2 separate regions of the Homo sapiens genome follow, and region 2 is linked to region 1. Evidence: fine-mapped expression QTL. Tissue or cell type: whole blood. Region 1 holds a variant in brackets; the other region holds the start of a gene. All regions are shown on one strand. Distances are between the middles of the regions. Region 1 overlaps IRAG2 (inositol 1,4,5-triphosphate receptor associated 2). Region 2 holds the start of IRAG2 (inositol 1,4,5-triphosphate receptor associated 2).

What was found.
Region 2: it holds the start of IRAG2, and the variant in region 1 is fine-mapped to the expression of IRAG2 in whole blood (INTERVAL, PIP above 0.99).

The regions. Positions count from the first base shown.
Region 1 is chr12:25,094,751-25,103,098 of GRCh38, reverse strand. It overlaps IRAG2 (inositol 1,4,5-triphosphate receptor associated 2), which reads right to left. Exons shown (of 22, transcript NM_001366544.2): 15 at 6,055-6,189; 16 at 1,774-1,921; 17 at 858-901. Among named protein-coding and RNA genes, the nearest start is that of IRAG2, 46 kb to the right of the region's middle. The variant C/T (reference allele first, on the strand shown) is at 3,745.
Region 2 is chr12:25,047,792-25,056,139 of GRCh38, reverse strand. IRAG2 (inositol 1,4,5-triphosphate receptor associated 2) reads right to left here and starts at 3,434. Exons shown (of 22, transcript NM_001366544.2): 1 at 3,184-3,434. RefSeq lists enhancers at 3,560-3,929, 3,970-4,079.

The DNA.
Region 1 (8,348 bases):
CCATCATCCCTAATTTAATTTCATAGGTTAGTTGAGCATCAAGAATATGAAACTGCGGCCCAAGAAACTTGGTTTCTAATCATGCTTCTACCAATACATGATCATAACTGATCACTTAACTTCTGTGTTTCTCTTCCCTCATCTGAAAAAGAGGGATTTGTATGGAATGATTTTAAAGTCACTTATTCAAAAATTCTGTATATCTATGAAATCCTGATTTTTACACTGTGGCAAAACCTGCCAGTTGACCTTCAGTATCACATTCTTCCTTCTTAGTTAGTAATAAGCCTCCTGATTTTTAGCTAGGCATACAGCCTCCCAAATACACGCTGTATTTTCCAGTCTCATTCGTAACAAAGAATGGAAAGAGAAATGTTACTTTGGACTTCTAGGGGGTGTCTTTACAGGGAGAGGGAATACTTGTCATTGCTTCTTTTTTTTTCTTGGAATGAGATGATGTAATGATGAGGGCTTGGTGCCTGGATCTAAAGTAGCCATCTTAGACTCTGAGGCAGAAGCCAAGGGCTGAGGGTAGTGAGGCAGCACGAAAGGAGGAGGCTGATCCCTCAGGATCTTGTGAAGCTGCTGTGCCATTGTCGGGTTACCCACTTCCAACTTCAGTTTTACACAACAGAGAGAAACCATTGTTGTACTGACTTTCTTCATGCTGCCAGGCACACTTAATTGATACAAAAATATAGCAGAGAGTATAAAAGCATACTTAGATAAACAAATACATCTATATGAATTAAAATCACTATTTTGTTATTTACATATAAAGGCCTGAAACTTCAAATAACATTTTAAAACCGTCTTATAGTATTTGCTAGACATTTGTTAAGTGAATTAGTAATTACCTTGGAGTTTAGAGAAGCTGAACGTTTTTTAATTTGGCAGTCATCTGAAAGGAAAAACACATTGACACATTTTAGCTATTACACATGCCATTTATGTTAAAGCAACGTCTTAATTCTTTAAAGGTAAAGCAAAATTCAGAAGATATTAAGACTTTAGAGACTACCGAGCAATATAAATATCTGTTTATCATTCATTTCATTCTTCATAACAATTACCATCTTAACCAATGGAATACAGTCCTCTGTGTCACTGTGATGTCCATAATGCCTAGCTAGCACAGGGTAGGCACTACATGTGTGTCTGCTGGAGAAAGGAATCCAAAAGTACAGTTCAGAAGAGTATCAAATATGGTTACTGTTCTAGAACAGGGAACAGATTCTTGAAATAAGAATTCTGCTCAGAAAAGTTCATATTGTTTATTTTAAATAAAACTATTGTAAGATTTATAGAAACGATATGTTACTCCCCGTGGCCTCATATGTTTCTCTATTTTCCAGTTCATCAATCAGCTTACTGTGCCAGGGTCATTCCTTCCGTGAGGAATCAAAACCGTTGCTGATGGCAGCGCCCATTTAAATTATTTATCCTTACTTTTTACGTGTGGAGAAATTCTAATGTATCCTAAGTAGGGGAACACTAAGGTCAACTTCATGAGTTGGATTAAATATATTCTGTCATCTCAGTAATCTAAATTGAGTTAATAAATTTTTGGTGTCATTACTAAAGAATCCTTCATGTGTCCCAACCTGTTTTCTGACACCTCACTTTTAGCTATATAAATAACAGGAATGAATTATTTTTCTAATATAAAGTTAACCTAAGAGTTTTATTATACTGAAGTAATAATAAGACTTAGCAAAAAAGAGGAGAATGTAGAAAAACACAACTAATACTATTATCATAAACTTTTATTACCATCATCTTCAAGAGGATTGAAAGACCTTTCATTCTGCAGAAGAACCTGTTTCAGTTCTTCTAATTCAGCGTGCTCTTTGGCATACATCCTCTTCAAGTTTTCTACGTGCTGAATCATCACTTCAACTGCTTTACTAACCCGGCTTTCCTAGCAAGAGAAAAAACGAGCACATTTACATTGAAAATACTACTCTCAATTAAAAGATGGTGATTAAACACATTTACCTTCACTCCATTCCTAAATCCCACTAAAGTGGCAATAAATGTTTTTTTTTTAAAAAGACATGCATCTACAGGGGCAAACAGAAGAGAATATGACAACAAGACTTTGAAAGCTGGATAGAAGGACTAGTGGCAAATGACTAAGACCTGGAAAAGCTGAACCCTAAAAAAGGCAGTAAGAAAAGCCTAGAAGCAACCTACACTGCACCTCAGTAAGGTTGATGGTGGGTATGTGAACAGAAGAAATGGTTGAAAGTCTGTGTAAAAAAAAAAAAAAAGATTAGGTCCAGAGACTCCTTCCTTACTGTGGCCAGCACAGCAATTTTCCCTCCACTATTTTGGTGAAAGACTACATACAGTTGGATATCTAGAGAGAGTTAACTTGAGGTTCTGTGGATTGGGAAAGAACAGATAGTTGATGATGGATCTATCATGCTGAAAACAACAGATTTAAGCAACAACTTATATGCATATTGAATATTGAGATCCAGCCTTATTCCTCCTTCCAGCCTCCAAACACTGGCAGCCAGAGTTACACCCTCAAGGCAGGCAGTTGGAAGGTTTTTCTCTGGGGATTCTAATATTCTAAGATAAAAGTCCTATAACTAATGACATTAGGAGTACCCCAGTGAAACATCTGGAATGTTCATAGTCCTATGAATATTTGTGTACAAGTATCTGAGTGCCTGTTTTCAATTCTTCTGGGTATACATCTAGGAATGAAATTGCTGAGTCATATGGTAATTCTATGTTTAACTTTTAAGGATCCACCAAACTGTTTTCCACGGTGGCTGGACCATTTCACATCTCCCAGCAACGTACAGTGTTTGCAATCTCCCCACATCCTCACCAACACTATTCCTTCTTTGCTTCCTCCCTCCCTCCTTCCTTCCTTTCCAACTTCCTTACTTCCTTTCTTCTTTCACCATAGCCATCCTCGTGGGTGTGAAGTGGTATCTCATTGTGGTTTTGATTTGTATTTCCCTAATACATTTAAGGATGTTAAATATCTTTTTACCTGCTTATTGACCATTTGTGTATCTTCTTTGAAGAAATGTCTATTGAAGTCTTTTGCCCATTTTTTTTTTTTTTTTTTTTTTTTTCAGATGGAGTCTCACTCTTGTTGCCCAGGCTGGAGTGCAATGGCACGATCTCGGCTCATTGCAACCTCTGCCTCCCGGGTTCAAGTGAGTCTCCTGCCTCAGTCTCCCGAGTAGCTGGGATTATAGGCACGTGCCACCACACCTGGCTAATTTTTGTATTTTTAGTAGAGACGGGGTTTTACCACGTTGGCCAGGCTGGTCTCAAACTCCTGACCTCATGATCTGCCCATCTTGGCCTCCCAAGGTGCTAGGATTACAGGCGTGAGTCACCGCGCCCGGCCACACATCCTTTCAAACCACAGTAAGACATTGGGTTTTACCCCAAGTAAACTGAGGAGCTTTAGGACGCTGAACCAAAAAGTAACACAATCTAATTTTAAAAGGATTACTCTGGCTCCTTTATTAAGAACAGACTATGTTGGGAGGAGGGATTGGAATTGGATGGAAGCAGGGAGACCATATAGGAACCTATTGCATTAATCTGGACAAAACAGAATGGAGGCTTAGATCAAGATGGTAACAGTAGAAAGGGAAATAAATGGTTGAATTCTGAATATATTCTGACAATTCAGCCAATAGGATTTTCTGTAGGATTTAATGTGAAGTGAGAGAGAAAGGTGTTGAGAATTACCCCAGCTCCCTCTGC[C/T]CCTATTTTGGCCTGAGCAACTAAAAGGACAGAGCTGCCCTTGAGTGAAGTAAGGAGCTTATGCATGGGGTAGGTTTGGTGGGGGGACCATGAACAGTCAGTTTTGAATGGTAGGTTTGAGTTTATCAAACATCCAAGTGGAACTGTTGAGTCAGCAGTAGCATACTCTGCTCTGGAGCTCAGGGGAGTGGGTTAGGCTAAACATATGAATTTGAGAGTCCTCAGGTGACTGCAAGGGATCACAGGGGGATTGCGTGCACATGGAGATCAGATGTGCACGAGTGGAGTCCTGGGGCTCTTCAATATTCAGAGGTCCAGGAGAAGGGGTAGAACTGCAGGAAGCCTAGAAGGAGCAGCCCGTGATGTAGAGAAAAGCTAGAGGACATGGTGCCTGGAAGCTAAGTGAGGAAAGCATTTCCAGGAAGAGGAAGACATCAGCCATGCCAGATGAGGACTGAGAAACTGAATTTGGTAATGTGGAGGTCACTAGTGACCTTGGAAAAATCTGCTTTGTGGAAGCAAAAGGCTGATACAGAGTGGGTTGGAGAGAACGTGGGAGGAGGGAGACTGAACACAGTGAGTACCATTCTGTCGAGGTTTGCTGTAAATGGGAGCAGAGAAACAGGGTGGTGGCCAGAAAAGAAAGGATAAAAAGTTATTTTGTTTGTGTTTGTTTTGTGTTATTATTCCCATCTAGAAAACAACATATTATTTGTGTGCTGATAGAAATGGTTCAGTAGAGTGGAGAAAATGTAAATGGAGAAAAGTCAGGAGAATTTGGTCCCATGACTCTGAGTAAATTAGTCGGGAAGGCTCCCATCTACAGTGGGGAAGGCTGGCCTTGGATAGGGTTAGAGACAACGCATCTTTAGGAACAAGAGCAAGGGAGTGTGTAAGGATTCACACGCTGGGAGGCTTTGTGGCAGTTTCCTTTGATTGTCCCAGTTTCCTCAGTGAGGTTGGAAGCAGTCATTACCTGTGTTTGAGAGAGAATATGGGGAAAGACATGACAGTGGTTTGAGGAGAAAGGAAAGGGTGGGAAATTGATATTTAAAAGAGAAGGAGGGTGATTGAGGGGAAGCCCCAAGGACCCGCTTGAGGTTTGTGATAATGAATTCAAAGAGAAACAGGTCAGCATGGGAATGTGACATTTTCCAGCTATGCAGGCATGAGAGGTGGAGAAGCGGATTTACTTGTAGATTCGCCAAATGAGTAAGACAAAGCAAGAAAGGGGTAAGTGATGAGGGGACATGCAAGGTAGTGAAAACTATGTTTAACTGTGGAGTATAAGCTTGGCCAGGAAAGCAGGATGGCCAACAGTAGCTTGAGGGACAGTGAAAAGGTGTGATGGGCCAGAGATTGATAAAAGAACTAAATATTTGTCTTCGTAGTGGAAGAGCAACAGATAATACCTAAAACTGAAAATAAATCACTAAATGGCAGCATGAGCATGTTATTGAAAAATGTGAATGCAAATACAAAACAAATAAGACAAAAAGTTGAAAGTTGTTTCTCTGGATCACGGGAAATTAGTAAGGCTTATAGAGCTGATTGACCTTTTAAAAAACTATGTGCATATATAACTTTAGTAAAAATGAAACAAAGAATAACAGTATTCTCTAGTGAGGGGTTAAAAAGGAACTAAGGTGTGAAAGTATATAACAAATGATCAAACTAAAATTACTACCACAATTAAATTTCTCCTTAAGAAAATATATTTTAACAAGTCTGCTTAGGTATAGATTTAAAAAATTCATATCTCCCCAGGTTTGCCCACAAAGAAATTTTGGAATTCTACTTCTCTAAGGACAAATACACACAGATGCATATACAAGGATATTTACTGGAGCATTGTTTATAACAGAAAAATACCAAAAACATCCTGAAATGATTGAATACAAGGAATTGGTTAAATAATTTATATCTACTCAACCAGTAGAATACCATAAAATGGTGACATGTGAGTATATAATTATATCACACAGAAAGTTACCTATGTTGTATGATGAATAAAAAGCAGATTATAACACTATATAAGGGATTATAAACACTATATTATAACACTATACATCTTGAAGAATATATCACAAAAATTTTATGATTGTCACTGGATCGTATTATATTTTTTTAACATTTTTTATTTGTATATTCCATTTTTTCTGTATTAAACACATATGTATTAAACGCATATGTCTTATACAACAAAAGTATTTTTTAAAACTTATTCCTAGAAGTGAGAAATCCATAGTCTCAGGAAAAGTGAATCTTTTTTGTAATTTCATTCTAACTAGAGAAATGAAGACAGGTTACCTGATTGATGGCTCCCAACATCTCAGCCCTACTGGCCACTCGTGCTGCACACTGGCTAAGAAACTTTATACTCTTCTCCAGCTTCTTAATGATTTCCTGTGCCTGGTTGTCATCTTCACACAGAGGTGTTAAAGACTGTATAGAAAACAGCATATTAAAAGATATCTAACACAAGCATTCAGCGAGTGATTCTAACACTGACTAAGTTGCAAATGTGGATGACATTCTAATCTCAATTATTTCGGTGGAAGATGAAAAGAAGCAGCAAAGATCAATAATGAATGATACTGATATATTATTATCTTTTTTGGGTACTGGGTAGATATACGCAGGTGATCACAAATCTTTTATGTCTATTCTTGATCCCTTTTTTCTTTACTTCCCAAATTTGCCACATCTTTCTTCTACAGCTAATAGGATGGGCTGCAATTAATTGGTAATGGTAAAGAGATTATGCTTACAAAAGAGGTGAATGTATCATATAAGGAGCATAGGTTGGAATTTTAAGAAACGTAACCAAACATATTGGAATTAAAAATGTCTCTGACGGTATGACTGGGCTGGCTAGGTGAATATACATTCATTGCCTTATGAATTTTCCTCTCAATCCTGTGCCCTTTACACAATATGATGCCCTTCCTGATGAACATCCTTCTCACCAGAGTACAGACAGGATTAAGTGAATAACAGATTTGGAAGCAGACATGACACTGCTCATTACCTGTGTGATTGTGAGCAAATTTCTAAAACTTTCCCAAATCTAAAGCAACATGAATTATAAGAGATACAACGATTTTGTATATCATTAAGAAAGAAAAGGCTGTCAATAAAACCATTAGGCACCACCGACTGTAAATTGCATCATAATTTTAGAAATGTTCAAAAAAAATCAACCTTTCTGATTTGCTGTTCCTTATCTGTCCAGTGGGGACAATCACGTATCCTCTCCAGAAATACTGTCATATGATAGGTAAGAGATGCCAACTGCCTGTTGCACATTTGGTGCTCAATGAAGGATAACCACTTTTGAAACAGACAGATATGTGTAAGTTGTAGTTAGAGAGTTGCTAACCAACTAGGATGGCAATTGTCAGACATGCAGTTTCTTACAGTGGTTTAAACCACCACCTCCAGTTGGGAAGGAAAGAGCAGATGTTAATTGTTAGCAAAACAGAGTATGGTCAACCAGGATTAAGCCATGAAGAAACAGAGAATCTGAACAGACCTATAACTAGTAAGAAGATTGAATCAGTAATCAAAAATCACCCAATAAAGAAAAATCCATGACTGAATGGCTTCACTGGGGAATTCTACCATTTAAAGAATTAATGCCAATCTTCATAAAACTCTTCCCAAAAATTGAAGAGGAATACTTCCAAGCTCATTCTATGAAGTCCACATTACCTTAATGCCAAAGCCAGAAAAAGACATTAAAGAAAAAAAACTACAGACCAATATCTCTGATAAATATTAATGTAAACATTCTCAACAAAATACTACTAGACTGAATTCAACAGTACATAAAAAGGATTATACATCATGTACAAGTAGGATTTATTTCTATAATGTTAGGGTGGTTTAACATATGAAAACCAATCAATATAATATACCACATTAACAAAAAGGAGGACAAAAACCATATAGTCATTTCAACTGATGCAGAAGAAGCATGTGATAAGATTGAACACACTTTTATGATTAAAAAACACAAAAACTAGGAATACTAACAAAAAGATGCAAAAAACCACACATTATTTTTACTATGTCACTGAAGTGCTAATTTAAAAAAATAGAAATAGGAGAAAATTACCTTAACCTAATAAAAGTTATATATGAAAACCCTACTACGATTATACTCAGTGGTGAAAGACTGAAAGCTTATTCCTTTAAGGTCAGGAACAAGGCAAAGATGCCCACTCTCACCAATATTATTCAACATAATACTGGAAGTTCTAGCCAGAACAATTAGGCAAGGAAAATAATGAAAAGTTATCCAAATCAGAAAGGAAGAAGTCAAATCATTTCTGTTTGTAGATGATATGATCTCATACATAGTAAACACTAAAAATTCCACCAAAAAAACCTGTTAGAACTAATATACACATTCAACAAAATTGTAGGGTACAAAATTAACACAAAAAATTAGTTGTCTTTCTACACACTAACAATTTCCAAAAAAGAAATTAAGAAAACCATTCCCTTTACAATAGCATCAAAATGAATAAAATACTGAGGAATAAACCTAACAAAGGAGATAAAAGAGATGTACACCGAAAACCACAAAACATTTCTGA
Region 2 (8,348 bases), 47 kb after region 1:
TAAGAATAGCAAGCTAAAAGAGTGTTTGCAGTGATATTATCTAGGTGAAAGTCTCCTCTAAACTAGGAAGTTCATGTGCAGATACTACGTTCAAATAAGAAATTATGCTATATCAGAGTTTCCCAGGATCTCTTTTCAAGGAAAAATTTGTGATTCTTAAAGGTAATTCTCTCATTGTCTATGAGAAGACTGACTCCATGAAGATTTCACGTCAGATGGGAACAAGAGATGGTGAATAGTAAGGGGGTGATAGTTTTGGATTGTATCAATTAGTCCATGATTTCTGTACATAAGATTCACCCTAATATGTTATATACACATCCTATAAGCTTTTAAAAATTTCCTTTTTAGATGAGTTCATGTCCTTTGTAGCGACATGGATGAAGCTGGAAACCATCATTCTGAGCAAACTATCGCAAGGACAGAAAACCAAACTCTGCATATTCTCACTCACAGGTGGGAATTGAACAATGAGAACACTTGGACACAGGACGGGGAACATCACACACTGGGGCCTGTCATGGGGTGGGGATAGGAGAGGTGTAGCATTAGGAGAAATACCTAATGTAAATGACGAGTTAATGGGTGCAGCACACCAACATGGTACATGTATACATATATAACAAACCTGCACGTTGTACACATGTACCCTAGAACATAAGTATAATAAAAAAAATTTCCTTTTTAAAGCAAACACTAATTATAATCCAGTCATGTGTCTATTAACAAGATACTTGGATATAAACAAAGTTTAGATGCAGAAGAAATAAAATATATAAGTAACCATTCAAGCAATTGAACAGTTTTCATGGCACATTTCTTGAAGAATATCATGCACATGAATTGCCTCATAAATCAGCCCAGTCCTGAAGGCAATTGAAAACTTGAACAATATCATTTATTCAAGATAAAGTTCAGGATTTCTGATCAAACATCACATATAAATTTCCAGTTGTAGTGTGAACATTATGCACATTGATCTGAACATTTGGACAAACCAGCTGCATCCCCACACAATGTGCTGATGCAACTTAGATGGATCAGAAAACAATTGTCTGAAATACTTTGTGAATTTATTAAACTAGCCAGAGAGTTTCAGAAAAGCTAAATAGATATAAATATGTTTTGTTTTCTGACTCAGAATCAGATGTCTGACTCAGAAATCAAACAGCATGGGGTGGCAGTGGTCATGGCGGGATGTGCGTGGACGTGTTTGTGTGATAACTGCAGTCATTGACATTTGTTTGCAGTCTATCTGGAACATCTGCTATATAGAACATTTTGAAAATACGTGCTATCTAAATTTCCCTCTTCTCTCAAAGATTGAATTTAAAGGGCATTGTTAGAAAGATCGTAAGTACATGGTCATATAAGCAAAATCCTGATTTGTATGGGTTTTTTGGGCAGCAAAAGATACAAGTAACAAGTAAGGGATTTCATAAATCTGGACAGGTTATGCATAACTCAAGACAGAAAGGAAGTGTCCACTCTACGTTATCCAGGCAGAAAAAAATACACGTATCAACCCAGGGCAGCTTTCATATTCTGCTTTTAAGTGTATTTGAATCTATTGGGCCGTGAAGATAAACTGGGAAGACAACAATAGCAAGTTCATAATATCAAGAACGTGCACTTTGGGGTAAGTTATTAAAGTTGACTCTTCTAAGAAAATACTGCAAGAAAATCACAGTGAGGAAGGGGAACAAATTCTTAGTAGTTTATAAAACTCAGGTATAATATTGATTTAATCAAAAGGCAAAACTGGAGCAAAAGAATAGTCCTGGGCACAGTGTCTAAAGCAGACACACCTTAAACCAACTTTGGAATGCCTTATGATTCATGTCTCAACATGAACAGTTCTAATCACAAGGGAACCTTCTCCAATGCCCTCTGAGCAGTAGTAAAATAACACACAGACTGTGTAATTTAAAGACTGCCTTACTAGCTTAACAGAGTGAATCAGAATATTGAAAACTGGCAAATTCAATAAAGGTTTAAAAATTATGACAATAATATGTTGAATAACCACTGCTATTTTAATGTTTTATTTATTTATTTGTTTGTAATTTTTGTAGAGACAGGGTTTCACCATGTTGTCCAGGCTGGTCTCAAACTCCTGGGCTCAAGCAATCTGCCCACCTCGGCCTCCCAAAATGCTGGGATTACAGGGGTGAGCCACTGTGTCCGGCAAACCATTGCTATTTTAAAACTAGACTATTTCTTAAACTCCTAAATAGCTTTCTCAGATAATAGTAGAAAGGGTACAATAAATCCAAAACAAACACAAGTCTGAAATTTTTCATCTCTAGCCTACCTTAAGCTTATATATTAAATATATAATTATTTATAATTATATAACAATTAACAAATAAACAATGTTTATTTCTCAAACCAAGTAACTTTCTATAAAAAGAATATTTATACTGCTAGAACAAGAAACTGGCTGAACAAAAGCAATTGTCTGATAAATGGCTAAATAAGTAAGGTTTATTTTTACCATATTAGGTTTCTAGAATGAAACAATTTTATAGCTAATCTGACATCTGTAATGTGACAACTGTCTTCTCACATAAATCTCTGGTAACTGTTTATATACTTTTGGGTAATACAGAAAAATGACAAATATTCCAATTTTTAAAATGCAAAATATGTATGTAGATGTATGTAGAGAATGCATTAAAACTTTAAAAGAATTTTCACACATTTGATATTTTGATATACACTGAATTCATAATTATTTTGCCCAACCCCCTAAAATTTCCAAAGAAAATAGACGAGCAAGGCCTTTTCTACCATATGAGAGGAAAAAAACTAGCTAATAAAATCAGAGTATAATATATAACAACTTGCAAGTTCAAATATACCATGCATACTAGATTTTTCTCCTTGTTTACTTTTAGAAATTTTGAGAAGTTTTAATTAATTTTAAAAGAAAAAAACAGCCACAGACAAAACCAGCTTATAATAAAAAGGCAAAAAGGGAAGTTAATGGTTAAACCCATGCATGCACCTAGCCACTCAGCAAACCTCTCTGAAAGCCCCACAATATTGCCTTCTCAAACCATTTCATTGTCATAAACTCAGGAATAATATCCTAGCTGTAATCTAGAAAAATGTCTGTAGTCCTATGCCCCGCCTGAGGGTGGACAAAAACTGGGTCATAAATGAATATTTGCTACTCACTCTTCAGTTTCCTTGTCTTCTGCTGAAGTGCCTGGCAAGTGTTCGATAATTCAGTATTTATAGTTTGAAGGTTCCGTTGTTCCGAAATTGCTTCCTCTAATTTATGCAGTAAAGACGTAGCTTTTTCACTGGCAGTGTGGGCTTCTCGATCTCGATCCTTACCCTGGACATGGATAGTTAGTGCTGGATTGTAGCAGTGTGGCCAGGAAAGAAAGCAATGGAGTGCTCACTCTTATGATGCAGGCAAAACTGAAAATGTGTTTTTCTTCTCAGGGAAGTGATAAGCCTCTCCTGAACTTCTGCAATTCTGTGTTTGCATGGGCTTGGTATGCCTGAGCTATTTCTACAGCGGTTAAAGTCCTGATATGTCAAGTTGCCTCTTTCTGCAGAGTCGCCTCTTTCATCAGCAGGCTGTTGATACCGCCTCTCTTACAACTCCCCCTTTACTTCCTCTGCTCACTGTTAGTCGCTAGGGACTGAACTTGCAGTTCCTCTTTGCTTTTTTTTTTTGTTTGTTGTTGTTGTTCCTCCTCCATTTTTATTTCATGGTTTGCAGGGCATCTGAGGAGATGTCCCCTGAATCTAATGTAGCCATGAGCCACCCTACCTGCTCCTCCACATCCTCCAGCCGTTGGCTGGTTTCTTGGAGCCTCTTCCTAAGGATGCCTTCCTGGTTGACAGCATCTTCCTGTAGTTGTTTAATGGCTTCTAGTTGTTTCTGACTGGAGTTAAAAAAAAAAAAAAAAAAAAAAGTCCAAACCGCAAGCTGTCAGTGACATTTCAACTAAGAGTCACCCTGTGAAATTATGACAAACTCAAACTTAACACCACTTCCTTAGAGATCAGAGGAAAAAGTGAAAGTATTTACATATAAATGCTTCACAAATATAAAATCTTAAGCAAAGCTTATTGGTCGCTTAGCCTGACACCCTCACTTTACAGATAAGGACTTCTAGTTTCATCTTTTACACTGGTGTGTTCAGTTCCCACCAGCTGCATTCATAGCACTTAGCATCAGTTGCCAGTTGCCAGTTACTCAGAAGATGGCTCTACAATGAGGTCAGGGTGACAGGTGCAACATTTACACATCACAGCTAGCTTTTACAGAAAAAGAAAGGAATGGGGTAAAGGTAGGGGGAGGGAAAAGAAAAGGAAAGAGAGCTTTGTTTCATGACCTTAGCCTTTCTCCTTAAGGGTTGTCAATCATAGTATAAACACGTGCCACGAGCACAGGAAGGACCGCCCCCAGGCACAGATGAAAGCTGGCGGTTGATATTTCTACTTTAGTCCTCTTTTTGCTGAAGCTTTTCTCCCCATCACCCTTCCCCACCACAGATCTCATGGTGCCATTACGTTACACCTCATTTGGATCCAATTCTAATCTCTAAAACATGTAAAAATGCACTTACTCTCTGTTAGCAGATGAGATTATTTAATGTGTGTTACATGCCAGTACCTCAATGATTATCTGGAAACAATCTGACTTGAATATGGACCTTAACTCAAAGTGGTGATAAATGTCGGGAGTTGCAAAACAGCAAGGAAGACATTGTCAGCCGTAGGCCTTGTGCATGCCTCTCAAACGTTAACATTTAGTCAGAATGCCACTGCACACTGGCACAAATCCAGCCCTGGTTACACGAAGGACCACATGAGAGGCAAGAATGGTCTCACAGAATGCTTACCATACTGGTAAACAAGCAAACAAAATCCTAAGCAAAAATAAAAACTGCCTACATCACCACACTTTCCACTGAGCGTCCTTCAATAGCTTATCGTTGTCTCTCTCACTCTCTTTTTCTCTCTTTTTCTTTAACTGTGGCAGGAACATTTAACAGGAGATTTACCCACTTAACAAATTTTTAAGTGTACAATACAGTATTATTAACTACAGGCATAATGTTGTACAGCAGATCTCTAGAACATCTTCATCTTGCATAACTGAAACTTTATACCTATTGAGTAGCAACTCCTCATTTCCCCTCCCCTAGCTCCTGGCAACCACTATTCTCTCTCTTTCTATTAGTTTAACTATTTTAGATACCTCAGAGAAGTGGGATCGTGCAGTATTTGTTGTTCTGTGACTCACTTATTTTACTTGGGATAGTGTCCTCCAGGTTTATCTATGTTGTCATATGTGGCAGAATTTCCTTCTTTTTAAAGGTTGGATAATATTCCCTTGTATTTATATACCAAATTTTCTTTATCCAATCATCCGTGGACATTCAGGTTGTTTCCAAATCTTGGCTATTGAGAATAATGCCGCAGTGAATATGGGAATGCAAATAGCTCTTCCAGGTGCTGATTTTAATTATTTTGGATAAATACCCAGAAGTGGGGTTCCTAGATCAGATGGTAGTTTAATTTTTAATATTTTGAGAAAACTCTGTAACTGTTTTTTTTTGTTTGTTTGTTTGTTTGTTTTTTTTGAGACGGAGTCTCGCTCTGTCTCCAGGCTGGAGTGCACTGGCGCGATCTCAGCTCACTGCAACCTTTGGCTCCCGGGTTGAAGCGATTCCCCTGCCTCAGCCTCCCGGGTAGCTGGGACTACAGGCACGCACCACCATGCCCGGCTAATTTTTTGTATTTTAGTAGAGACGGGGTTTCACCATGTTGGCCAGGATGGTCTCGATTTCCTGACCTCGAGATCCGCCTGTCTCGGCCTCCGAAAGTGCTGGGATTACAGGCATGAGCCACCGCACCCGGCCCTCCATAACATTTTCTATAGTGCCTGCACCACTTTCCATTCCCCCAACTGTGCACTAGGACTCCAATATCTCTACATCCTCACCAACACTTTTTTTTATTTGTTTTTTGTTTTTGTTTTTTTGAGACGGAGTCTCACTCTGTCACCCAGGCTGGATGGAGTGCAGTGGCGCAATCTCGGCTCACTGCAAGCTCCACCTCCCAAGCTAACGCCATTCTCCTGCCTCGGCCTCCCGAGTAGCTTTTTTTTTTTTTTTTTTTTTTTTTTGAGACACAGTTTCGCTGTGTTGCCCAGGTTGGAGTGCAGTGGCACAATCTTGGCTCACTGCAAGCTCCGCCTCCCGGGTTCCCACCATTCTCCTGCCTCAGCCTCCCGGGTAGCTAGGACTACAGGCGCCTGCCACTATGCCTGGCTAATTTTTTTGTATTTTTAGTAGAGACAGGGTTTCACCTTGTTAGCCAGGATGGTCTCGATCTCCTGACCTCGTGATCCGCCTCAGCCTCCCAAAGTGCTGGGATTACAGGCGTGAGCCACCGCATCCGGCCGTCTTTTAAAATAATAGCCATCCTAACAGGTATGATACAATATCTAATTATAGTCTTAACTTGCATTTTCCTAATGATTAGTTATGTTGAGTATGTTTGTACACCTGTTTGACCATTTATCGTCTTCTTTTGAGAAATGCCTATTCAAGTCTTTTGTCTATTTTTAAATCTAGTTATTTGTGTTTTTTTATTGTTGTTCTGGAGTTGTAGGGGTTTCTTATATTTTCTAAATATTAACCCCATAAGTGAAGGACCTCTTCAAGGAGAACTACAAACCACTGCTTAAGGAAATCAGAGAGGACACAAACAAATGGAAAAACATTCCATGCTCATGGATAGGAAGAATCAATATCATGAAAATAGCCATACTGCCCAAAGTAATTTATAGATTCAATGCTATTCCCATTAAACTGCCATTGGCATTCTTCACAGAATTAGAATAAACTATTTAAAAATTCATATGGAATCAAAAAAGAACCCAAATAGCCAAGACAATCCTAAGAAAAGAGAACAAAACTGGAGGCATCACGCTACCCGACTTTAAACTATACTACAAGGCTACAGTAGCCAAATAGCATGGTACTGGTACAAAAACAGATACATAGACCAATGGAACAGAATAGAGAACTCAGAAATAGGACTGTACACCAGCAACCATCTGATCTTTGACAAACCTGACAAAAACAAGCAATGGGAATAAATGGTGCTGGGAGAACTGGCTAGCTACATGCAGAAAATTGAAACTGGTCCCCTTCCTCAATCCTTATACAAAAATTAACTCAATATAGATTAAAGACTAAGTGTAAAACCCAAAACTATAAAAACCCTGGAAGAAAATCCAGGCAGTAAAATTGAGGACATAGGCACAGGCAAAGATTTCACAACAAAAGCACCAGAAGCAATTGCAACAAAAGCAAAAATTGACAAGTAGGATCTAATTAAACTAAAGAGTTTCTGCACAGCAAAATAAACTATCATCAGAGTCAACAGACAACCTAGAGAATGGGAGAACATTTTTGCAATCTATCCATTGGACAAAGGTTTAATATCCAGAGTCTGCAAGGAACTTTAACAAATTTACAAGAAAAAAAATATTACAAAGTGGTCAAGCCAGGCTCAGTGGCTCACACCTGTAATCCCAGCACTTTGGGAGGCTGAGGCGGGTGGATTGCTTGAGGTCAGGAGTTTGAGACCAGCCTGGCCAACGTGGTGAAAGCCCATCTCTACTAAAAATACAAAAATTAGCTGGGTGTGGTGGTGTGTGCCTGTAGTCCCAGCTACTCGGGAGGCTGAGGCAGAGGAATCGCTTGAACCTGGGAGGTGGAGGTTGCAGTGAGCCGAGATCGAGACCCCGCCATTGCACTCCAGCCTGAGCAACAGAGAGAGACTGTCTCAAAAAAATAAAAAAATAAAAAGTGGGCAAAGGACAGGAACAGACACTTCTCAAAATAAGACATTCACATGGCCAACAAACATGAAAAAAAGCTCAACATCACTGATCATTAGAGAAATGCAAAATCACAATAAGATACCACCTCATGCCAGCCAGAATGGCAATTATTAAAAATCCCAGAAACAACAGATGCTGGTGAGGTTGCAGAGAAAAAGGTATGCTTTTATACTGTTGGTGGGGTATAAATTAGTTCCTCCATTGTGGAAGGCAGTGTGGTAATTCCTCAAAGATCTAAATAGAGGTAGAAATACCATTTGACCCAGCAATCCCATTACTGAGTATATACCCAAGGAATATAAATCATTCTATTATAAAGATACATGCAAGCGTATGTTCATTGCAGCACTATTCATAATAGCAAAGACATGGAGTCAACCAAAATGCCCATCAGTGATAGACTGGATAACGAAAATGTGATACATGTACACCATGGAATACTACGCAGTCATAAAAAGGAACA